7 linked regions of the Homo sapiens genome follow. The protein of the gene in region 5 purifies or fractionates together with the protein of the main gene of each other region. This does not show direct contact. Each region holds a gene or a part of one and is shown on either strand. Other genes may lie near its edges.

Evidence for each region.
Region 1: the proteins of SLC37A1 (region 5) and UBL3 purify together in Homo sapiens (affinity purification with mass spectrometry; one large-scale study listed by BioGRID and IntAct). This does not show direct contact.
Region 2: the proteins of SLC37A1 (region 5) and ADCY3 purify together in Homo sapiens (affinity purification with mass spectrometry; one large-scale study listed by BioGRID and IntAct). This does not show direct contact.
Region 3: the proteins of SLC37A1 (region 5) and PTPRF purify together in Homo sapiens (affinity purification with mass spectrometry; one large-scale study listed by BioGRID and IntAct). This does not show direct contact.
Region 4: the proteins of SLC37A1 (region 5) and TNFRSF21 purify together in Homo sapiens (affinity purification with mass spectrometry; one large-scale study listed by BioGRID and IntAct). This does not show direct contact.
Region 6: the proteins of SLC37A1 (region 5) and CC2D1A purify together in Homo sapiens (affinity purification with mass spectrometry; one large-scale study listed by BioGRID and IntAct). This does not show direct contact.
Region 7: the proteins of SLC37A1 (region 5) and CLCN5 purify together in Homo sapiens (affinity purification with mass spectrometry; one large-scale study listed by BioGRID and IntAct). This does not show direct contact.

The regions. Positions count from the first base shown.
Region 1 is NC_000013.11:29,763,871-29,767,244, forward strand, and holds the end of UBL3 (ubiquitin-like protein 3), read right to left. Parts: 3' UTR 501-3,374; downstream 1-500.
Region 2 is NC_000002.12:24,910,238-24,913,737, reverse strand, and holds part of ADCY3 (adenylate cyclase type 3), read left to right. Parts: intron 1-3,500.
Region 3 is NC_000001.11:43,533,883-43,537,382, forward strand, and holds part of PTPRF (receptor-type tyrosine-protein phosphatase F isoform 1 precursor), read left to right. Parts: intron 1-3,500. UniProt on the Homo sapiens protein: Possible cell adhesion receptor. It possesses an intrinsic protein tyrosine phosphatase activity (PTPase) and dephosphorylates EPHA2 regulating its activity.
Region 4 is NC_000006.12:47,233,969-47,236,905, reverse strand, and holds part of TNFRSF21 (tumor necrosis factor receptor superfamily member 21 precursor), read left to right. Parts: intron 1-2,007; coding exon 2,008-2,236; intron 2,237-2,937.
Region 5 is NC_000021.9:42,541,352-42,544,851, reverse strand, and holds part of SLC37A1 (glucose-6-phosphate exchanger SLC37A1), read right to left. Parts: intron 2,449-3,500; coding exon 2,372-2,448; intron 1,417-2,371; coding exon 1,250-1,416; intron 1-1,249. UniProt on the Homo sapiens protein: Inorganic phosphate and glucose-6-phosphate antiporter. May transport cytoplasmic glucose-6-phosphate into the lumen of the endoplasmic reticulum and translocate inorganic phosphate into the opposite direction. Independent of a lumenal glucose-6-phosphatase.
Region 6 is NC_000019.10:13,909,201-13,912,700, forward strand, and holds part of CC2D1A (coiled-coil and C2 domain-containing protein 1A), read left to right. Parts: intron 1-622; coding exon 623-758; intron 759-3,122; coding exon 3,123-3,238; intron 3,239-3,327; coding exon 3,328-3,393; intron 3,394-3,500. UniProt on the Homo sapiens protein: Transcription factor that binds specifically to the DRE (dual repressor element) and represses HTR1A gene transcription in neuronal cells. The combination of calcium and ATP specifically inactivates the binding with FRE.
Region 7 is NC_000023.11:50,096,663-50,099,730, reverse strand, and holds the end of CLCN5 (H(+)/Cl(-) exchange transporter 5), read right to left. Parts: 3' UTR 501-3,068; downstream 1-500. UniProt on the Homo sapiens protein: Proton-coupled chloride transporter. Functions as antiport system and exchanges chloride ions against protons. Important for normal acidification of the endosome lumen. May play an important role in renal tubular function.

The sequences.
Region 1 (3,374 bases), on a different chromosome or scaffold from region 5:
TCAACCACCTCCTGTGTAAAAGCCTCATAGAAGCCACTGCCTTCTGAAGGAAACACACCAACTGGCAGGGGGTCAGGGTAAGCCAGGAGTCACACCCAACTACCACTGCTCACACCCAAGAACCCCACCCTACCCTGGCCACAAAAACTGTGCCTAGACTCCAGCACAGCCTGCAGCTGTGTTTCAATTATAGCTGTGTTTGTAATTATAGGTCATGTGCCTTCTCCCCCACCCCAATCACTCCACCCCAATCACTCCATTTGGCTAACAAGTGACCATATTATAACACAAAAATGGAAAACAAACTGGAATGCTCGAAAAAGTTACAAATAAAAACGGTATGAAGGCATATTAAATTTTGGCTGATACTTCCCTTTGATTTTGCTAAACTATAGCAAAGGCTGGCTCAATGTTGATTTTTACTGAAGAGTATCATTAACTGAAGAAAGAAAAAAAGACATAAACAGTAGTGAAATAAAGAATAGGCAAATACACCAGAATTATGAATAGAAGCCATTTTAAAGAAGAGAAATATTCTACAACAGATGAAGAAAGTTTTAATTTCTTTTCACATTAAACATTGTTTACCACAATCAGCTAACAGAAATTACTGTAACATTGGTCACGATGACTTCATAAAACTAAAGATAAATGTTATGAGGAAACTTCATTTAACGTGAATGGTAATGTTAGATACTGTATTTTTCCATGGTAAAATACAACTTATCTTGAAGAGAAAGCAAATAGTTCAGATCAGGGAGACATGCTGAGGTTTTAATAAAGAAAAGCTTGGCCTTGTCCAGAACACTTAACAAAGTTCAGGACAATTTAGGTAAAAGAGATGAGTGAGACACCAGCGTTAGGCAGGGACATAGGCTCATCATTCAGGCTTTATGTACATTACTGGATCTATGCAGCTCTCACCTTTAGATAAGTGAGCTATATTTTTGGCAGAGGGATCTTCAAAAGTAGCCTTGGATATGAGGAATCGTATTTTAACCACCAGGCAGTCCAAGGAATTATTTTTAAAGGGACAGCTGAGTATTTCACGTATATACTATTAAGGCATCTAAATTTTTGGTGTTTTCAGTATATAATTTTACTGCTACTTTTTATTCTTTTTTTTCATATTGTACAACTATGATATTAGGTATTAAGCGACGTAATTCTTTCTCTACTAGTGAACCAGTTTATTTCACTTAGCAAACTCTAAATTGAGGGAAATATATAATCTGAGAACACACAGAAAAATATATTGAAAAACCAATAGAGAATTATTTTTAACCATCATAAAAACTCAATCTTAATTAACTGATAGTCTTTAACTTAAAAAAAGAGTAATCAGAATGAAAATAGGTATTAAAAATAATTACCAGTAGTTTGTTTTACAAAATAGAGCCATAAATTGTTTAATTGCCCAATTAAGCAACTACCAGATTCTTTAGTCAACACTAACAGAATTCACATTTCAGCTAGTCAACAAAGCATATAAATATTTAACATCTCTTGAAGATAACATTTTAGTGATAACGGAGACTACATAATTCTATCCATTGTTGTGACTGTCCACAAATTAACCAGGTTAAATATCAAAGATACATTGGGAATACTCCCCAAAACAACAACAGAATATTAATTAAATGAATTTTAAAAGCTTAAGAAATGAAAGTAGAAAACATGAATGAGACGGTGCTTAAACAATTATTGACCTAATCAAGACCTTTAAAATTACCACCAAAATGCACTATCATTTTTTTTTTATTTAGTTTACAGGAAGAATCTGTAAGTACAGGTTGCAGAAAGAAAACGTTTAGTGCTATTTACATTCATTTTAAAACTCTGCTCTATACAAATTTAATTCTGATCAGTATGAACAATATTTTCGTAGATCTACTGCATATAAAGCCTTTTCATCAAAGCATTAACAATGAATAAAATAACATGATTACATTTAAACAACGCTGACCATTTGAAACCATTTACATTTAATGTTTGTAAGGGCTGTTGACACTTAGTACAGAATGTAATGTCAGCCTGCAACTTCATTTTTATAAAGGCTAAACTTATTTATATGGAATATTGTTCTGTATACTACGCGCCAATCTATATTTTAAGTCCTGTAGTTAGGTATTTTATAAGTCTTTTATTAAATATATTCTACACATATTTGTAATTTCATCCAGGAAGAATTTCTTCCCAGTGAAAAAATATAAAAATCTTTCATATTTTTACAGGTTTAGATGAAAGTAGCTCATGCTTTAGTGCTGTGCAAATTGTTTTTAGCATATCAATCTTTAAATTATTGGTATGAAATAAAAGAAAAAGTGGCATTCTTGTGTATGCCATAAAAATCAGCTTTTGACTTTAATACAATTGCAAGCACTAATATCAAACGCAAACTATATAAAGAAACAAAATTAGTACTATGGAGTTTTTTTTTAATTTTAAGAATTCATCTGAACTCTAAGGAGTAAGCATGACACTGGATGTGGTTACAAATTAATGATAATTATGGAAAATTTCAATTTGCTGATATTCAAATACATAAAATTGATCAATGAGGTTTTCTAATATTTCTGCACAATAATGAAAGCCGATGAGTGACTGAAACTACCCTCCCACATTAAGGCTAGGAGACGCACTCTCACCCCTTCTTGTGCTGTCTAAACAAACACTCAGTTACTGTAGGACTCAAGAGTGCATGTCTTAAAGGAAAAAAAATTAGTTTCATCAGCCCTCTACTGAGTGCTTTAAACAGGCACATTTTGTTTTTTCATTTGTTGCAGTGAAAATAGTCACACTCAGTTTAGTATTCTGTGCCAGTGCAGCCACCACGGCTGACTTTGGTAGAATTCACCCAACATTTTAGTTTCTTTTCCATTTTTTCCTCTCAAGTTGGCCCAGTAATTAACTTCATTAATTGCTGAGTGTCTTCCAGTGTGGAATTGTATATATAAGTATTTCTAGATACCACACACTGTTATAAATTCTGCTGATGAGGAAAATAATGCCAATCTTTTTAATGCAAATTGTATTTGGAACACTTGATTTATTAGTTCTGATGATGAAAATTTTGTGGCAGCAAAATGGTTTCTGCTACGAAAGATAACTTGTTAACTTTTCCCCTGGAGATTGACTGCATTCAAAAACCAATATGTGTTAAAACAGCTCAACAAAAAATACAAGAAATAAAAAATCAGAGTGAAAAATGTTCTTGGTTCTTTTTACTTTCATGAGAAAAGATGACAGTGTTCATGTGGTAATTCAGTTCCATGTGTTTACAGGCAGACTGTTCTGAACGGTTTCTGAAGCAATGTCGGGTCTTTTCTGTCCCAGCAGCATGAAAGACAAAGACTATATCACATCACACTAGG
Region 2 (3,500 bases), on a different chromosome or scaffold from region 5:
GAACATTTGCTCCTAGGGGCTGGAGGGAGCTGCCGTAGGGAGGGTGAGAGGAAACTGAGGCTTCCAGAGACACCCTGTCTGCAGACGGCAGGTAGCTGTTGCATGCACCTCATCCCATTTAATCCTGGATGTTACTGGCTCCATTTCACAGATAAGGGGACTGAGGCTCAGTGAGGTTGAGAGGAGGTAGTGGGGCTGGATTACAGGGGAGGGGTCACTGATGAGTGAGAAAGGTGGGTTGGGGGACTTCCCTGAAAGCCTCTCTTTCTCTGGAACCCAGGCATCTGGGCCTCCTACTTTTCTGGCTGCCCCCAAATGTCTTTGCTAAGCAACGTAGCTGAACAGTGCCAAGAGATGGCAGTCCCTAAGGTATAACAGGAGGCACCCCCTTCTCCCCATGGGAATTGGATGCAAAGAAGGGAGAAGCCCATGACGATGTTCCCTGTGGGCACGTGGCCAGGAGTACTTGAGAAAGGCAGGGGGCTGAATCGGGACAGGAGCTGGTGTGAGGTGCGGTGGGCAGGAAGCAGCAGGCCTGGGGGCTTTCAGCCTTCAGGAAGCAGGCTGCAGGGAGAGGTGTGCAGGACACAGAGCAAGAGGAGGCAAACTCAAGCCAGTCCTGGCTCTTTGGCCCTGGGCTCCTCCACTGACCCGGGACGGGAAAGAAGCCGTCATCCCTCCGTGGAGAGTATGCAGATGGGCATCAGTGGAGGGTCCAGGGACCAGAACAATGATGACGTGCGTAGAAGGGGACTGCAGGGCCATCAGATTCAGCTGCATGTGAGGAGGAATAATCAGTCATTGAACATGTAAACAACTTTGCAGAAAATCAACCCCTCCATCCTTTCCCTGTCGCAGCTTTCTGTGGCCTTTTCTGACCCCGATCTGTGTATAAACAGAGCTTTCCCAGTTTGTCATCATCATGCATATGCAATTTAGGCCCCACCTTTCATCCACATTATTTCCCTGACATTTTGCTGTGAACACTGGACTCCTCGTGTTTATTATTTTAAATCAGCGCTTTATAGTCAGCGAGTTTTTCTAGAGAGGAAACGGAAGCCCAGGGCTGGGCCAGGGGTGGGTAACTGGGTAGTTTTATATGCACATGCAGGCACACACACACACACACACATGCACACACACACACACATGCACACACACACACACATGCACACACACACACACATGCGTGCTCACTCCTGGGCTTGGTCTGCCCAGCCTTCTGGGTAAACCCTCCGTCAGATGGAATGGCTGGGATGCCAGGGTTATTGGCATTCTGCAGTTTCTTCATAAACAAACAGCAAATCCCACGAGGGTGGTCTAATGCTGGGTAAATATTCCAACACCACCCTCTGCCCCTGGCTGCCCCCCCACCAAATTACACATTCTTTTTGTTTTTTCTTTTTTTCTTTTTCTTCTTCCTTTTTTTTTTTTTCAAATAGAGACAGAGTTTCACCATGTTGCCCAGGCTGGGCCTGAACTCCTGAGCTCAGGCGGTTCACCCACCTCGGCCTCCTAAAGTGCTGGATTACAGGTGTGAGCCACCATGCCCAGCCATCACCAAATTACACGTTCTTGATAATAGATTCCACGGGTATGTGCTATCACCAACACGGAGACTCAGAGACACATTGTGCGTAGGTCGAGGCCCATGAGCAGGGACAGTGAGGAGGTGGCTGTGTTTACTGAGCTCTTGCTCTGTTACAGTTTAGTGCCTTCTGGCAAGAGGCAAATATTATTTCCATTTTACAGATCAGGAAACTGAAATGGGTGACAACTGAAATGACTTGTCCAGGGCCACATGCCTAGTAAGAGGCAGAGCAGGATTGGAGCCCAGGTCAGTAGGATTTTGGAGTTCCTTCTCACTGGAGTCATAAAAGAACCCATTAGGCGGTGACCAGTAGCTCATGCCTGGAATCCCAGCACTTTGGGAGGCTGAGGCAGGAATATCACTTGAGGCCAGGAGTTCAAGACCAGCCTGGGCAACATAATGAGACCCCATCTTCATACACACACACACACACACGTACACAACCACCAAAAAAAATTCAGCTGGGCTTGGTGGTGTGTGTGTGTGTGTTTTTTTTTTTTTTTTTTTTTGAGTCTGTCTCCCAGGCTGGAGTGCAATGATGCTATCTTGGCTCACTGCAGCCTCCGCTTCCCAGGTTCAAGCAATTCTCCTGCCTCAGCCTCCCAAGTAGCTGGGATTTCAGGCACCCACCACCATGCCTGGCTAATTTTTTTTGTATTTTTAGTAGAGACAGGTTTTCACCACAGTAACCAGGCTGGTCTCGAACTCCTGACCTCAGGTGATCCACCTGCCTCGGCCTACCAAAGTGCTGGGATTACAGGCATGAACCACAGCGCCCAGGCTGATGGTGTGTGTCTTGTACAGGAGGCTGGGGAGGGGGATGGCTTGAGCCCAGGAGTTTGAAGTTACAGTGAGCTCTGATCATACCACCCCACTGCAGCCTGGGGAACAGTGAGACCCCATCTCAAAAAAAAAAAAAAAAAAAAAAAGAACCCTTATATCTTCCCTCGGAGCCTGTTGAGATAGTTCCAACGGGGTTAGGGTTTTGGTTTCTCAACCCACAAGCATTAGAAGGAGCAATTTGGGGGATGAGGAGGTGTTTTTGGGGGCATCTTCAAGGAACAGAGATGTCTGGGGTGTTGAGTGTTGCAACCAACAGCCCTCATATGCACCTTCTCTGGCTGTAGGAGGCGTTGTTACATTATAGGACAGCATAGTAACTGATGTGCATAATGGTGACCAACTCATCAAGAAAATATTAAGGCCAGGCGCGGTGGCTCACACCTGTAATCCCGGCACTTTGGAAGGCCGAGGTGGGTGGATCACGAGGTCAGGAGATCGAGACCATCCTGGCCAACATGGTGAAACCCTATCTCTATTAAAATACAAAAAATCAGCCGGGCGTGGTGATGCACGCCTGTAGTCCCAGCTACTGGGGAGGCTGAGGCAGGAGAATTGCTTGAACTTGGGAGGCAGAGAGTGCAGTGAGCTGAGATTGTGCCTGGTGACAGAGGGAGACTCTGTCTCACAAAAAAAAAAAAAAAAGAAAAGAAAAGAAAGGAAATATTAAATTGCATTTAGCATAAAGTGTAGTGTAGTATCTAAAAACATTTTCCTCGGGAATGGATAACACAAGTTTGAACAAATAAGGATTATATTTGGAAATTCAGTAATGTGGGATGGCTCATTACTCAGTGTTACTGAGTATATGTCCATTTATTCACCATGTGTTTTAGTTATCCACTGCTGTGTAACAAACAGCCCCAAAATTTGGAGGCTTAAAAGAGTAACAGTTTAAACCTGGGCAACATGGCAAAACTCTTGTCTCTACAAATGGTACAAAAATCAGCCAGGCATGGTAGCATGTGCCAGTAGTCCCAGCTACTCAGAAGGCTGAGGTGGGAGGATTATGAGCCCCGGATGCTGCAATGAGCCATGATCGTGACACTGCACTCCAGCCTGGGTGACA
Region 3 (3,500 bases), on a different chromosome or scaffold from region 5:
GGCCCCGGCTGCCTTTCTTCCTTTGGGACTAACAGCTATGTAGAAGAGGCAGCCCACCCCTAAGGTTCAGGCATCTGCTCAACTAAAGCAGCTGCGGTTCTGAGTTGGGTTAGAACATTGCAAGAGTTCATCAAGAGACGGGGGAGAGTTCGGAGGTCAGGGTGAGGTGAGTCCCAGAGGAGACCAAGAAGAAGTGATGTGAACTAGGTTTGGAGGGATGAGTAGGAGTTTGAAGAAGAGAGAAAGGACTTGAGATAGATAAAAACCAGTATGAATAAAGACTGGGAGGTGTTGTCACTTGTGAAGTATTCAGAGATGTGGCAGATCACAGAGGGCATTGAATGCCCTGTTAAGTACCTGTAATTTTACTCTGAGAACCCAGAGAGAAAACACCAAAGGTTTAAAGCTTGGATAGGGAGGGTGGAGTGTGCTGTGGTCAGGTTTATGTTTCCAGAAAATGCTCTGTGGCTATGGGAAAAGGATGGAGACAGGATGCCCAGTGGGGCAAGAGGGTGCAGGTAAGTAAGGTGAGAGAAGATGCTGGCTTTGATAGGTGGTAGCATGGTGCCATCTTGAAGGTACACTTGTCAGGACAGAATGATTTATTGGATGTGGGAGTGAAGGAGAGGAAGAGGAAGGAGTCCAGGTTCCTCGGAGTGGTTGAGCGGGCCTTCACTGAAGGCCCTGAAGCTTCACTGTGTTAGGGACTTGGTGAGGAGGGGCAGAGAATAAGCTCTTAGTTGGACATGTGGCCCTTGAGGTACTTGGGACATTGGAGGCTCAGTGGGGGAGGCACATCAAGGAGGGGCTTTGGTGTGAGGGTATGGGAGAGAAATGTCGGTCGGACCAAGAGAAGCGAGAGCTGTATGAGAGACCATAGAGCTGTGCACCTCGAGAGAAAGTAACCTCCGACAGTGGTGAAGAGCTCGAGTTTTATACTGCTAGGATTGGACTCTGTTTACTAGCAGCGTGACTTTAAGCAAGTGGCTTAACCTCTCTGAATCCGCTTCCTCATTTGTCAAATGATTATAATAAAAACCCGTGCCTTATAAGGGTTGTTATGAGGATTAAAGATAGTATGCATAAAGTGTGTGTAGCACAGGGCTTGGCATCTAGTGAGTACTGTTGTCTGTGTTTGCAGTTACTGTAATCATCCTCAACTGGGATGGTGTAAACCCACCCTCCCATCAGGGGTCACATGAGGTTGCCTTTAATGAGAAGATAGACTGCTAAGGTTAGGGTCCCTGTCTGCCTAAGGTTGCTGCAATTCTGAGCTGAGATTAGCAGGTCAAGGAGCTCAACAAAGGGGGTGCCTGCCCCTATTGTTATCGATGGGATTGTTTGTGTTGCTCAGGTGTTTGACCTTCAGGTGGGTGGGCTTGAGAAGACTAGAGGTGAGGCCTGCAGAAGAGACTCCATGTTTGGGGTAGGTGGAAGGGAATTTTGAGAAGGGGCAGCCTTGGGGTATTGAGTTCTCCATTTCCTCCCACCCTCCCTGGGCCCTGGGCTTCTACTGAGGCTCTTTCTGCCACCATCTGCCTCTGTGGTCCAGATGCACCATGTCTCTGTGTGACCGTGACTTCTAGGTCTGAGAACTCTGGTTTTAGCTCCTTAGCAGTATTTTAGCTGCTGTTTCTGGGGACTGTTCCTGGTGCAGCCACAGGGGCATTCTGGGGGTTGCTCCAGAGGGCAGCTGTGCCTGCATTCCCCTAGGTATCATCGACTTGCTCCTGACCCACTGCCGGGCCAGGTTTCAGGCCTGGCAGATGATGGGGAACCCTACTGGGGCCAGCCCTGCGTTGGCCCCAAGGGCTTTCTTTCTTGATATTGGACATGACTGTGGACTTCACCCCTTCTGAGGCCTTCCTGGGTGCCAAGCAGTGTGATTTCTTTCTTTTTCTCTTTGGTTTGAAACAGAATCTCACTCTGTTGCCCAGGCTGGAGTGTAGTGGTGCAGTCGTGGCTCACTGCAGCCTCCACCTCCTGGGCTCAAGTGATCCTCCCACCTCAGCCTCCTGAGTAACTGAGACTACAGGTGTAGTCCCACCTGGCTAATTTTTGTATTTTTTTAGAGACAGGGTTTTGTCATGTTGTCCAGGCTGCTCTTGAACTCCTGGCTCAAGTGATCCACCTGCCTTGGCCTCCCAAAGTGCCGGGATTACAGGGGTGAGCCACTGTGACTGGCCAGCAGTGTGATTTCTAACTTGGGTCCTGAACCATTCAGGCCCTTTCTGAGTAGCTTTCTAGTCAACCTTCCAGATGTCAGCTCTGGCTCTGTTCTGGGGGTGTATCTGGTTGTCCTGGTTGTTCTGGGCTCTGTCCCAGTGTGAGTGTAGAGTGGGTTCTGGGAGCTGCAGTTGGTGAATCTGAGTCTTTATTTGGTTGCCTGATAGGTTGTTTTGAGGTCAGTTTGATCCCAGACTGACGTGGTTCAAAGTTACTGTTTGGCTTTTCTAGGATCCTGCCCTCATGCTGTTCTGTGTGCCTCAGGGTCTTTGCAAATGTTTAGTCTTCTAAAATGGCCCCTGGCCACTTTGGGTACACACCTCTTTCCAGGTGTGGCTTCTGCTCCATGTAGGGCCTGTCTCAGTCTCCAAGCACGAGACCCTGCTGTGGCTGGGTGTGGCAGCAGCGCCTGGCCAGCTTGGGGGGCCTTTCCCATTACCCAGTTCCCTGCCTTGGACTCTGCCCCTCTGCCCAGGGTCTCTGCACAATGGTGCAGCCAAAAACCTCACTTGAATACTGTGAGGCCCTGCGGGCATCTCTAGACAAATGGGCCTTTAAGTTTGGGGCCTGGAAGCTGGTTTGTCTGGCCAGACCTGCTGGGCAGCCTGTATGCTGGGAGCAGCAGCTGCTGGAAACTCAGCTTGGGGAGCGGGGAGGGAAGCATGCAGAGAGGGCTGCGGGTTCTGGTGCAGGTAGGTGGGGCAGTGGAGGCTGGGTCGCCAAGCTGGCGAGGGCCATCTTGGGTCAGTTGGGATGGCCTTCAGTCGGTGAGAGTACCCCCATATTGGCAGAGGTGGTTAGTGCAACTTGAGGGTAATTCCCAGGTGCAGAGGTGTGTCCTTGATTTCATGATGAGGGTCAGTCTTGGGCCGGTGAGGACATTCCCACGCACCACCCTCCCACTGTGGTTTCTTTGTGTCCGTTATAGGAGGAGCCAAGGTGGCAGAGTGGTGTGGGGTGGGGATCACTGTGCATGTGGGGGCTTGAGGTGAGAAGCCTGCTGCAAGGTGCAGCTTGCGTCGAGTAGGCCAAACAGCTGAGCTTCCGTGAAGTGGTGATGAGGTGGTATGGGTGTGTCTGACCCCCACCCCCACCCAGGATGGTACCCACGCTGGTGGGGACTCAATAATGGCTCTAGAAGGAAGGGGCTGGGCTCTGTCGCTGCATGTGTGCCAGCGGAGGAGGCATCCAGGGGCACGCCTTCATTTTAAAAATTATAGAGTAGAGAAAGTCAAAAATAAATATTGCTTCTGAAGCTTCTTTGAAGACTGGCA
Region 4 (2,937 bases), on a different chromosome or scaffold from region 5:
TTGTGGGTGGAAATTTCCTTTTAAGCAAGAACAGTGTACTATATTGACTGACCATGTCTTCCAAGGTATTGTCCCTGAGAACCAGGATGTAGACAAGTGTTCTTAGTCTAACTGAGTGAATTAAAAAAGTGTGTTGGCGTGAATGGCCATGTGCATTTTCAAGGAGGAGGGGCATGCGCCAGGGCCTATGGAATTAACATTTTACAAGCATATACGTAACATTTGTCTGTAGGTCAGAAAGGGACTGCTAGGTGTGCATGTTTCCCAAGTCTGAAACTTGCCCTGGAAGCAGCAGCAGGGTGTGGGTGGTGGTTCAGAGGAAAAACGCTGTTGGAACATTAGACATGTGCAGTAATCAGTTATCTTCACAATCTGCAATCAGTTGCAAGAATTTCTCAGGCCTTAAAATTTGTAAAAGAAGCAGTTGTGTTTGCTTTGTGCCTTATATAACTATCCCACGTAATACTTTGAAATATCAATGTCTTCGTTGAAAAGCTTGAAAACATTTTACTTGAAGTGTGTGAGTGAAGGGATGAGGATTCTAAGGAGTGGTGATTAACAGCTTGGGGAGAGTGCCCATCATTCCCTGAACCCTGCTCTGTGTGATCTGGCCAGCTGGCTCCCAGGTTTTTTTATCCATGCCGGAAGAGCCAATAAAAAGATAAAGTCAATTACTAGGAGAGGCCACAAGTGCCTGCCAGAGTTCTGATGTATTTTCTCAAATGAAAGGGCCAAATAGAGATGTCAAGCAGGCCTGAGTTGAGCACTGGCTTTCTGCCAGTAGCTGTGTGCCCTCTTTGGGCCGCAGTCACTTTACTGGTAAAATGAAGTCACATCACCTATCACTTCCCCTTCTCTCCACTGCACACCCCCAGTACAAGCCATAGTCATACTGTATGTAGCCACTGTAGGAGCGTCCTAACTGCTCTCCCTACTTTGAATCTTGCCTCCCTAAAATCCATTCTCTACCCACCAGCCAGAGTGGTGGTGAAGCTCACCATCTTTATCTGAAACCATCTTGTGTGTTTGTTATTGTCTCTCTGACCTCCCCACTCCAGAATGCAATCTTCACAGTCTCTGTTCTATCCTTTTGGTCATTACTCTCCTCCTAGCCACTGACACCTCTCATTTTCTCCTGTTCTCATTCTTAATTTTAGCAGTTTTTTTCCTGAGCTAGTTTGAAATGGGAGTCAGAAAACCTGGGGTCTAGTTTTAGTTCTGTGACTTCCTTGTTGGCCCTTAGTTAAGAAAGTCACTTCACTTCTCCAGGCCCCAGTTTCCTTCCCTGTGAAGCTGAGTGTAAGAGTCAGCAAGCACTGCAGTAACAAAGGACCGCAGACTGCATGGCTTAAACAACAGAAATTGGTCTTCTCACAATTCTGGAGCCTCAGAAGGCCAAGACCAAGGTGTCTTCTGAGGTCTCTCTCTTGGCTTGCAGATGGCTGCCTTATCACCATGTCTTCACTGTGTCTTCCCTCTGTGTGCGTCTGTGTCCTCATCGCTTCTTTTTATTAAAGACACCAGTTATATCGGAGTGTAGCCAACCCTAAAGACCTCATTTTACTGTAATTACCTCTTTAAAGGCCCTCTCTCACAGTAGTCGCATTCTGAAGTACTGGGGGTCAGGGCTTCAACATGGAGGTGGCATAATTCATTCAGCTCATAATACTAAATTATATCTAAGACTCCTTTCAGCTCTACAAAATTATATTTTAAATCGGGGATCTTTCTCCTTACACCCATGTTCCCTTCTACTCCCCTGAGATAATAGCTTGGTTCATATGCCTCCCCGTTTTTAGTACTCATGCATATCCTCACTGTATTTTTGAAGGGTTTAAAAGTCTGTGTATGTGTCTAGCAATCATATAAATAAGTTAAGGTCAACTGAAGTGGGAGGATGTATATATAAAATGTTAAATGGAACAAAAAAAATAGCCTCTGAGGAGGGATTTTAATTTTACTGTTTTTTTTTCTATATATAATAAAAAAAAATTTTCCCTCCTACAGCTGGAAACTGACAAACTAGCTCTCCCGATGAGCCCCAGCCCGCTTAGCCCGAGCCCCATCCCCAGCCCCAACGCGAAACTTGAGAATTCCGCTCTCCTGACGGTGGAGCCTTCCCCACAGGACAAGAACAAGGGCTTCTTCGTGGATGAGTCGGAGCCCCTTCTCCGCTGTGACTCTACATCCAGCGGCTCCTCCGCGCTGAGCAGGAACGGTTCCTTTATTACCAAAGGTACGGGCATCGCAGCAGACCTCACACACGCACTTAAACCCCCCAAAGAGCCCCTGGGATTCGTCCCTCCCCGTCCACAGTCCAGTTGTAGCTGAGAGTTGAGTCATCTGAATTACCTGCCCAGGAAGACCAGTCCAAAACTTCAAGATACGCTGGCCCGAGAGTAACCTCGCCATTGGCTGGCGAAGACACGCCTCCAAAATCTTTGCAGCTCGCACTGCCCGGTGGAGAGCTATCGGCCACCCTTTATCCTCATGATGCTATCAAATGTGTGTTTCGGGGAAGGCCTGATAAAATGTAGTCTGGCAAGATTTTTGAAAATTATTTACCAAGCTTGCTGTATCCAAAGATTTAAAGTTGAACTTATCTTGAGAGTCAGAAGTACAGGTTTTAGGCCGTGCGCAGCAGCTCACGCCTGTAATCCGAGCACTTTGGAAGGCCGAGGTGGGCGGATCACTTGAAGCCAGGAGTTAGAGATGAGCCTGGCCAACATGGTGAAACCCCATCTCTACTAAAAAAAAAGAAAAATTAGCCCGCTGTAGTTCCAGCTACTCAGAGGCTGAGGCAAAAGAATCACTTGAACCTGAGACGCGGAGGCTGCAGTGAGCTGAGATTGTGCCACTGTACTCCAGACTGGGTGACAAGAGCAAAACTTTGTCCCAAAAAAAAGAAAACTACAGGTTTTAGTGACTTAAAAATAC
Region 5 (3,500 bases):
TGGTGTCTCAAACACTTGGAGCGCAGGGGCACAGAACTCCAGGTTCTAGGAACCAGAGCGGAAGAAAACAGGTGGTGGAAATGGCCTTTCTCAGAACTGCAGTGACACACCAGCCAGAGCTGAAAGCCACATGCTGGCCCACTGGGAGGGATCCAGACCCCCACCCATCCCAGGAGGCCCCTGCTCAGGCTGTTTGGGGTGTGGCCGAAGGCTTACTCAGCCTCTGCAGAAGCGGGGAAAGGGGAGCGGAGTGCAGCCCGGGGCCCCCACTTTTTGCTCACACCAATGGGTGTGTCTGGACATTCCTCATCTGAATGTTTATTTCCATTTTCACCAACACAGAAGCATGGGGTGAGAGTCTCCAAACTCACAGTGTGGCCAGATGATGGTTACCTTAAAAATTAAAAGGTTAGCTTTTGCAAGACAAAAAAAGTGAGCGACTAAATGGAATATGGATGAACTTTTGCATGCAGAGCTGAAGTGATCAGCAATGCCCAGTGTGGCTGGAGGGAGCTGGCTCTGAGTGTCCCTACCTGGCAGGCAGCATGAGGGAGCTGTCTCCTGCCATATGGTTTAAACTCAGTCAAAGAACTAAGAGTTGAGTACAGCTTATCAGAATGGCTTGCGGGATTCGAGCCCCTGTCGTGTGACCGCCAGGGCCACCCGGGCATCTCTATTCTTGCTGTAACTGTCCTGAATCTTCTCAGCACCAGAGCCTGCTGGATCTCTACTTCAGAAATGAATTTCAAATTCAATTAAATAAAGAGTTTGCTATTGAATCTGAAATGGAATAAGAGATTTGATTTTCCAAGAGATACTTTTTACCCAGTTAAGATATTAAGTCAGTCTTTTATAACACTGTCCAAGATATATCTTATCAGAAGGCAAAGAGCTGACTGGGTCCAATTCAGGCTGTGGTGGCAAGATGGGCATGAGAAGGAACAGCCTGTGGGAAGATGGAAGACTCCCATGCATGAACTCCTGATGCCGGGGCAAGGGAGGACAGGAGGACGGGAGGAAGGAATGGGGACATGGGTCACTCCAGAATCAGGGGAGAGTAGGAAATCCAGCAAAACCAGGAGAGAACCGGCTCCCCGGGGAAGTCTCCCTGGTAAGAAGAGCGCTGAGGCAGCCACGGGCAAACAGGGCGCTAGGCCACGCAGCTCTCACACTCGCCCCCAAGGCCCACCCAGGCAGGGAAATCCGAGGCCTCCCTTGGTGGGTGGTCTCCAAGGCCACGTGCACTTACGTTCAATGAGGAAGAGAAAGCACACTATCCCCATGGCTGCCACGATGGCTCCAGGCACGACGAAGGACAGGCCCCAGCATGTGGACACCCAGTAGCCAGCGATCAATGACCCCAAGATGTTGCCCACGGAGGTGTGGGAGTTCCAGACCCCCATAATCAAACCTCTCCTGCAGCACAACAAAACAGAAGACAGAAGATGGAGCTGAGAAGCTGAAACGAGTCCAGCAGTGCAGGGCGCAGCAGTGCCTGCAAAGTAGGGAGTCGGCGCAGAATCAACGGGGGGCCATGCAGACCCTGCTTCTGTGCCATGCAGGACTCGCGATGCTCACGAGAGCTGATGTGTTTATGTGGCCTCAGGCTGTGCCATCACCCATTCTACCTCTTGCTCTGAGCGCATTCTGTACTCAAGAAGAAGAAAGAGGCCTTTCCCTGAAAGTCTTGGAAGGCCTGAAATTAAAATTTGTGCCTCTACAATCAATTAATACATACAGTCACTTGATGAACTGTCATTTGAACAAAACTCATGGATGCACACACCAGGTGAATGAGGCACAGTATCTAAGACTTAAGACCTGATGACGCTGGTGTTCCCGTTTTAGCTTCCGCATCTTGTTTGCGATCGTCCACCATAAATAAGCCTTTGGCCTGGCTGAGCTGAATTTTACAAATAAATAAATTTTATCTGTATAAAATAAAAGCCATTTACAAATAAATCTGGACTCGCCAGGCTGGGTCCCAGCTCTGCTACTTTGGTGCTGTGCGCTGGGTGACCCAGGTCGGGACTTCCCAAACTCCCATGTTAACATGTAGCTTTGGCTTCAAAAGGCCTGGGGCAGGGTCCTGGACTCTGCATCTCCCACAACACCTGGGAGGCCAGATGCAGCTGTCAGAGGAGCCGCCGAGTGACACGGACTTCACCAGGCCCACAGTGGGAGGGCGGAGCTCCCCTGTCTCGTGGGACACAGGCCATCTGAATTTCAGCAATTCAAGCCCCAGAGGTTTCAGCCATCTTATTTTAAAGAGGATACTAAAGTGTTTTTGCTGTAATCAGTCTACAGAAAAACTAAAAGTAAAATGGTCTAGTTTTCATCTGCTATTGGAAACAGGGCTGCTTTTTCTCACCTTCCTTTTCCAAACCAGTTGCCGAGGCAGGTGACGACGCTGGGCCAGCCGGTGGTCTGCACCAGCCCGTTGATGACCTGCAGGAGAGGCCAAAGGAGAGACTGACCTGTGGGAAGCAGGCCCGGGACAGCGCTGCAGGGAGGTGCACAGAGCTTGCTCCACTTACACAAAGCAGGGGGCACGACAGCCAGAGATGGACTGTCAATTTTATATTTATATACAGTTTAAACTACATATATATTTTAAAACCATGTATACAGGTATCTATATATTTTTCAAAATAAAAGCAATGCATGCCTATTGTGGAAATTTTAGAATAAGCAGAGAAAAGCGAGGAAAAAAAACCCAGCCAGAACCCCACCACCAGCAGATCACACCTCATAACAGTGTGGGGCCAAGCTTCCCGGTCTCTTTTGAATCCAAAAACTTCATAGAAAGAGGCTAGGTGCAGCGGCTCATGCCTGTAATTCTAGCACTTTGGGAGACCAATGCAGGAGGGTCTCTTGAGTTCAGGAATTTGAGACCAGCCTGGGCAATATAGAGAGACCCCCTTGTCTACAAAAAATTAAAAATTAGCCAGGTGTGGTGGTGCACACCTGTGGTCCAAGCTACTCAAGAAGCTGAGATGGGAGGATTGCTTGAGCCTGGGAGGTCAAGGCTGTAGTGAGCTGTGATTGCATCACTGCACTCCAGCCTGGGCAACACAGTAAGACCCCATCTCAAAAAATAAACAAATACAAACTTTTTAAAGAGAGAAAACCTTTCTTCTCTTTATGAACTGTTTATAGAATTGTATGATAAACATGGCTTGTGAATTGCATGTTTCCCTTACCATGCCATGGAGAAGGTACTGTTGTTAATCATTCTCTGGAATGAACACGAACTTGACTTCGCGCCTGGACAAAGTATCTCTGCACTTTTGAAGAATCCCTGACTTGAGTTTCATGAAGGGACTTGGGGAATGTATTGCTGAGGACGCTCTAGCGTCTTGAGACTCGGGGGTGGCTCTACAAGACTGCACGAAACCAGGGCCAGCCTGGCAGCTCCGACTACCTCACTGCAGTAAGCCAGCTCTCTAGAGCAGGGTCCCCAACCCTGGGCCAGCCTGGCAGCTCTGACCACCTCACTG
Region 6 (3,500 bases), on a different chromosome or scaffold from region 5:
TCTCTGCTAAAAATACAAAAAAAAAATTAGCCGGGCGTGGTGGCGGGCGCCTGTAGTCCCAGCTACTCGGGATGTTGAGGCAGGAGAATGGCATGAACCCCGGAGGCGGAGGTTGCAGTGAGCTGAGACTGCACCACTGCACTCCAGCCTGGGTGACAGAGCGAGACTCTGTGTCAAAAAAAAACAAAAAACAAAAAACTTTTTTTTTTTTTGTAGAGTTGGGGGTCTCACTGTATTGCCCAGGCTGGTCTGGAACTCCCAGACACAAGCCATCCTCTTGCCTTGGCCTCCCAAAGTGCTGGGATGACAGGCGTGAGCCACTGCGCCCAGCCAGGGGCCTGCTTTTCCCACTGAACTTGGCCCAGCAGCACATCATAAGTGTGGATTCAGATCAGAGAGCTGGGTCTCTTGCCCTTTGCCCCAGGTTGAACTGTGCCAGAGGGCCTGGCCTATCTTGGAACACCTGTTCTGGGCTTGTTCCAGCCTCCTGGCACTCCCCAGGGAAATGGCTTTCCCTGGGAGACCTTGTTTCCTTCCTCCCAAGGGGACTCTCTGGCCATCATGGCTGCCTCTAGCCATGTGGTGAACCAAAGGTCTGACTGAACCCTTGCTGTTCCCCTAGCTGGGCCTGCTGGTTGACCTCTCCCCAGATGGCCTGATGATCCCTGAGGACGGGGCTAACGATGAAGAACTGGAGGCTGAGTTCTTGGCTTTGGTCGGGGGCCAGCCCCCAGCCCTGGAGAAGCTCAAAGGCAAAGGTGAGATGGTTAACACACCCTCAGAACATTTTCTGATCTCCTGCAAGTGGTTCGGGCGCAGAACTGGGGGCACTGGGTAGGTAGGGGAAAGAAGACAGAGAAGACCCCTGTTCTCCTGGAGCCAATGATCTGGGTAAGAGAGTCAAGATCGACTCTGAGGCCGGGCACGGTGGCTCACGCCTGTAATCCCAGCACTTTGGGAGGCCGAGGCAGGCAGATCATGAGGTCAGGAGATTGAGACCATCCCGGCTAACACGGTGAAACTCTGTCTCTACTAAAAATACAAAAAAAAAAAAAAAATTAGCCGGGCGTGGTGGCGGGCGCCTGTAGTCCCAGCTACTCAGGAGGCTGAGGCAGAAGAATGGCGTGAACCAGGGAGGCGGAGCTTGCAGTGAGCCGAGATCGCACCACTGCGCTACAGCCTGGGCGACAGAGCAAGACTCCGTCTCAAAAAAAAAAAAAAAAAAAAAAAGATCAAGTCTGGACCGAGACTGAGAGTTGGAATCCGAGCTCTGCCACTTACTGGTTATGTGACTTGATGAGTCACATCATGTGCTTTGGCCTCAGTTTCACCATCTGTAAAACTGGAATAATAACCATGTTATAGGAGTTAATCTGGAGTCCATAAGTATTTCACCCAGGGCCCCCTCACACACAATAAGCTCATGTCAGCCAGGCACATTGGCTCATGCATGTAATCCCAGCACTCTGGGAGGCCAAGGTGGACAGATCACTTGGGGCCAGGAGTTCGAGACCAGCCTGGCCAACATGGTGAAACCCTGTCTTTACTAAAAATACAAAAATTAGCCAAGCTTGGTGGCGAACACCTGTAATCCCAGCTACTTGGGAGGCTGAGGCATGAGAATCGCTTGAATCCAGGAGGCAGCAGTTGCAGTGGGCAGAGATTGCGCCACTGCACTCCAGCCTGGGTGACAGAGCAAGATCCTGTTTCCAAAAAACAAAAAAGAGAGAAGCTTCATTCAGGCATGAACTACTGTGCTGTTGGCTGTGAATTCAAAGTTAATGAATGAACGATATCTATTCAGGAAGGTGTCTTCAAACAGAAACACACATAGAGCAAGGTTGTGTATTGATCAGTTGATTAAAATTTTGTGACCAGAGCTGGGTGTGGTGGTGCATGCCTGTAATCCCAGCTACTCGGGAGGCTGAGGCAGGAAGATCACTTGAGGCCAAGAGTTTGAGGCTGCAGTGAGCTCTGATTGGGCCACTGCACTCCAGCCTGGGTGACAGAGCAAGATCCTGTCTCCAAAAAAGGTTATGACTGGAGATTCACAGGAACCTAAGCTTAAATTTCCCCTAGGAGCAACAGTCTTATAGTCATTAATTTAGTCTTCAAAGCAGCTTTATAGAATGTAACATAACTAATAACAAGATATTGGCAATATGCTATTCTAAGAGCTTCATTGACCTTCTCTGCTCCAACCTACCTATGAAGGAGGAACTGTTGTCATCCCCGTGTCACAGAGGGAGAAACTGAGGCTCAGAGAGGTGACATCACTTGCCGAAGTTCTCACAGAGAGAAAGTTGCAGAGCTGGGGTTTTTTTTGTTGTTGTTGTGTGTGTGTGTTTTTTTTTTTTTTTTTGGAGACAAACCCTTGCTCTGTTGCCCAGGCTGCAGTGCAGTGGCGCAATCTCAGCTCACTGCGACCTCTGCCTCCTGGGCTTAAGTGATTCTCCTGCCTCAGCCTCTTTAGCAGCGGGGATTACACGCCACCATGCCCAGCTAATTTTTTTTTTTTTTTTTTTTTTTTTTTGAGACGGAGTCTCGCTCTGTCGCCCAGGCTGGAGTACAGTGGCGCGATCTTGGCTCACCGCAAGCTCCGCCTCCTAGGTTCACGCCATTCCCCTGCCTCAGGCTCCCGAGTAGCTGGGACCACAGGCGCCCGCCAGCATGCCTGGCTAATTTTTTGTATTTGTAGTAGAGACGGGGTTTCACCGTGTTAGCCAGGATGGTCTCGATCTCCTGACCTTGTGATCCACCCGCCTCGGCCTCCCAAAGTGCTGGGGTTACAGGCGTGAGCCACTGCGCCCAGCCTAATTTTTGTATTTTTAGTAGAGACAGGGTTTCACCATGTTGGCCAGGCTGGTCTTGAACGCCTGACTTCAAGTGATCCTTCTGCCTCGGCCTCCCAAAGTGCTGGGATTATAGGCGTGAGTCACTGTGCCCGGTCTGCAGAGCTGGGTTTTGAATTCAGGTAGCCAGGCCCCAGACCTGAGGCTGAATAAGGAAGAGATGAAATGGGGAAGTCAGCGAGAAGTGGGATCACCTAGCGTGTCCAGGATGGGAAATGGGGGCTCTTGGTGTACGACCCTGGTCCACCTGGGGCATCCCCCTACCGCCAGGTCCCTTGCCGATGGAGGCCATTGAGAAGATGGCCAGCCTGTGCATGAGAGACCCGGATGAGGATGAGGAGGAGGGGACGGATGAGGACGACTTGGAGGCTGATGATGACCTGCTGGTGAGCACTGAGGGCGGGGTGGGGGCTCTGATCCGGTTGCCCCCATCCAGCAGGCCCTTATATCCTGCCCTGGCTGTGTGTCCCTGCAGGCGGAGCTAAATGAGGTCCTTGGAGAGGAGCAGAAGGCTTCAGAGACCCCACCTCCTGTGGCCCAGGTACAGTTTGGATGACTCCACTCCCTTGAACCACAACCCAACGGACAGCCCGGGGTTCAAGACCTAGCCTTTTTTATGAGATGGAGTCTTGCTGTGTCACCCAGGCT
Region 7 (3,068 bases), on a different chromosome or scaffold from region 5:
ATCCCAATACACCATAAAGAGGGTACTAAGAATCCTAGTATTCATGGGAGGACCGTTTTGATTACCCATCCTCCTCCTTGTACAAAGTAGCTGTAGGCAAGAGGCCTGTCAAAGCCCACGACCTTACATCATTAAGAGCTCAAAGAGAGAGAAAAATACAGCTCCCAGCCAATTCTCACATCATCAGGAAAGTATCACCAATGTATGAGACAGGAACATTTAAGTAGCCACAATGAATGAGGTATCCGGGTATCTGGAACATCTCCAAAAACGCAAGCTGCCTCTTATTTGCCTCCTTATGGTAAAGAGTATTACTGAGTCTGTAAATGTGAAAATAACTATTTAATAAATCTTTTTAAGCAGTGGGCCTGCCAGTAGGGGTTTGCAGTTGTGTTTTGTGCTACCCTCCCCTGAACCTTCCACTCTGCCCCTGTGGTTTTCTGATCAGAAATCAATAGCTACCAAGTTTAGGGTCTTTAGAAACACACCAGACACCAGGGTGGATAAGGCTGTGCTTTATTACATGCATAATTACAAATCTGTGCTAAGTGAAAATGTATAAAGCAATGGCGACCTGGGTTTAAGCCACACAGAGAAAGGGCTGGACAATCCATTAACCCTTCTGCCAATGTCCATTCCATTGCTTTTAACATGATTGTTTCCATTTCTTACAATTTGCATAGCACTTACTTGTCAACTTGCTTTGAATTCATTGTCTCAGTTTATCCTCACAACAACCCTGTGAGGTAGGTAGGGCAATTAACACTATCCCCATTTTGCAGATGGGAACACTGAGGCACAGAGCGGTTAAGATCTCGAGGCTAGTTAGTAGAAGCATAGGGAATAGAAATCAGGTCTCCTAACTCCCCAGTCCACATCTTCCTTTTTAGACTATGTTGTTCCGCATGACTAGGGAGTAGAATAAAGCGAGCAGTGAGCCATAGCTCTGGTTCAGGCTATGCCTAGGAACAGGCGAGAATAAAGCTAAGAAAGCATGGCTAAGGGCTAGCAACACTCAGATAAACAACTGCTCTGGACAGCTCAGCACCAAACTTCCTGCGGAAACTTGGGCTCTATTAGCTTTGGTTGAAGCTACTTTCTGGATGCCTAGTTACTGCTGATGTCTAGACATTAGCTTCAGCTGAACTTTCACCAACTCTCAGGCATTAAAATGTCGAGTCAGACAGGTTTTCTTTGGCTACTGCAGTTGGAGCCAGCCCTACAAAGAGCTTACTACAGAGAAATTCAAATAGTGGCCCATGGGCCGGAACCCAGCCCCTCTGATCTTCCTGGCCTCATTGGCTCACTCAACAGGTGGTAGTTTTCCCATAGCCAGAAATGAATGGGCAGAGGTAAGAACAGGAGGCTGGCCTTGGTCAAATGAAGAAGAGTCACCCACATGACATCACTGTCCCCCTTAGCTGACGTGAGCAAGGTACTGACTGGGCCACCTCCTTTCTGGCCTATACCTGGTTAGCAGCATAGCTTCAAAAGAGTTTAAGAGAACAAAATATTAAACACATCATTTTAAAATCCTGAATGGAATAAATTCTTAATCATCACAAAGTCCCAAAGGACCAAATATATAATAAAAAGTAAATACATACTTATAAAAAAAAGCTGAGTGCTAAAAAGCCAGGAAAATGGGAGAGAAAGGAAGAAGAGGGGACAAAGTGAAATGGAGGAAGGAAAAGGAACACACTGGAAGGACCATGTATTTTGAGGTACCCTTAATGTGACAGTGAGGCTGAACATTCCCCTCTCAGGCCACACTCTCTTCTCGATTTTGCCAGATGGCATTTCACTCACCAAATCTTAGACTGCCCCTGAATTCCAACAGATTTGTACTAGTAAGTAATATAGTTTAGCAGTAAATACTTCATATGTCTGCCTTGAGATGCTAAAGCCCTCATCACCCCCGACAAGTATCAATGGCTTTGGCCCTCACAGAGGAGCAAAGCCCTGTTGGTCCCATCAACTCAGACGTATCTTCCAGTTTCTGTTCTCAGAACAATCCTCTCCCTCCCACAAAGTCCACATTCAAAACAACATGCCTATAATAAAAGAAAGAGAAATCTGAATTCAGCGCATGGTGAGGGGAGAGAAAGACAATGAGACAGACAGCAAGGTGGGACGAGGCAGAGAGAAGAGAGGCAGAGATCTTTTTTTTTTTTAAACTCTCATATTTTTATATTATCACATGCTGTTTTTCTTCAAAAGGCCAAACTTTAGGCAAAGCATTCATTCAATAAGTGTGCACACAGAGGCTGAAGGCCCTTTGGCAGGAACTAAGAGGTAGGAATTTATGACTGTAAGACTGGGCTGGGTGACCCGATAGGTCCCATCCAAGAAATGCAAACTCCACACGTCATATACTTTCTTTCTTGGGTGATTTGGCAAAATTAGACTACACCATGGAAAAACCAATTTTGTTCCCTACATCTATTCAAACCTTTACCCAGATCCAGATGTTTAGAAATGAGAATGTGGCCAGCAAACGTTTGGGGAGTAACTTAAAGTTGCTAACACCCATTGTTCTCAGAAATTCTCTCCTTGGAGCAAGCAACTGAAATATGAAACAGAGCAGAGTCAGCGATCACCCCAGGACAACTACACTGATTGAACTTCAAATTGACACAGCTACTGAGCTCTGATCTGAGGAACTCTTACTTTTTTTTCCATATATAAGGATGTACGAGGAGGCAGAAATATAAATTTAAAAAAATTTGCTATCAAAATTCAAGACAATCTATCTAAACCTTATAGTTTAGGAAATGGCAACAGATGCCACATTTCTTCATGAGCAGATGTCTTGGGTCGGCCCTATCCATAAAACCAGACTGCCCTTGAGCCAAACACTGCTTTGAACCACTCATTTGCTTAGAAAGCCTGGCCTTTGAAGCATTGCTTGACTTTTTCTCCCCTTGAGGCACACAATCAAGCAGTTTATAAATGCCAGAACATATGTTGTAGGGGTGTGGGATGGCTTTCCTTCCACCATCTTACACCATTCAAATATTTTCTTACCAGGGCTTTTTCTATGGCCATAACTTTTAGTTTCTTCTCCA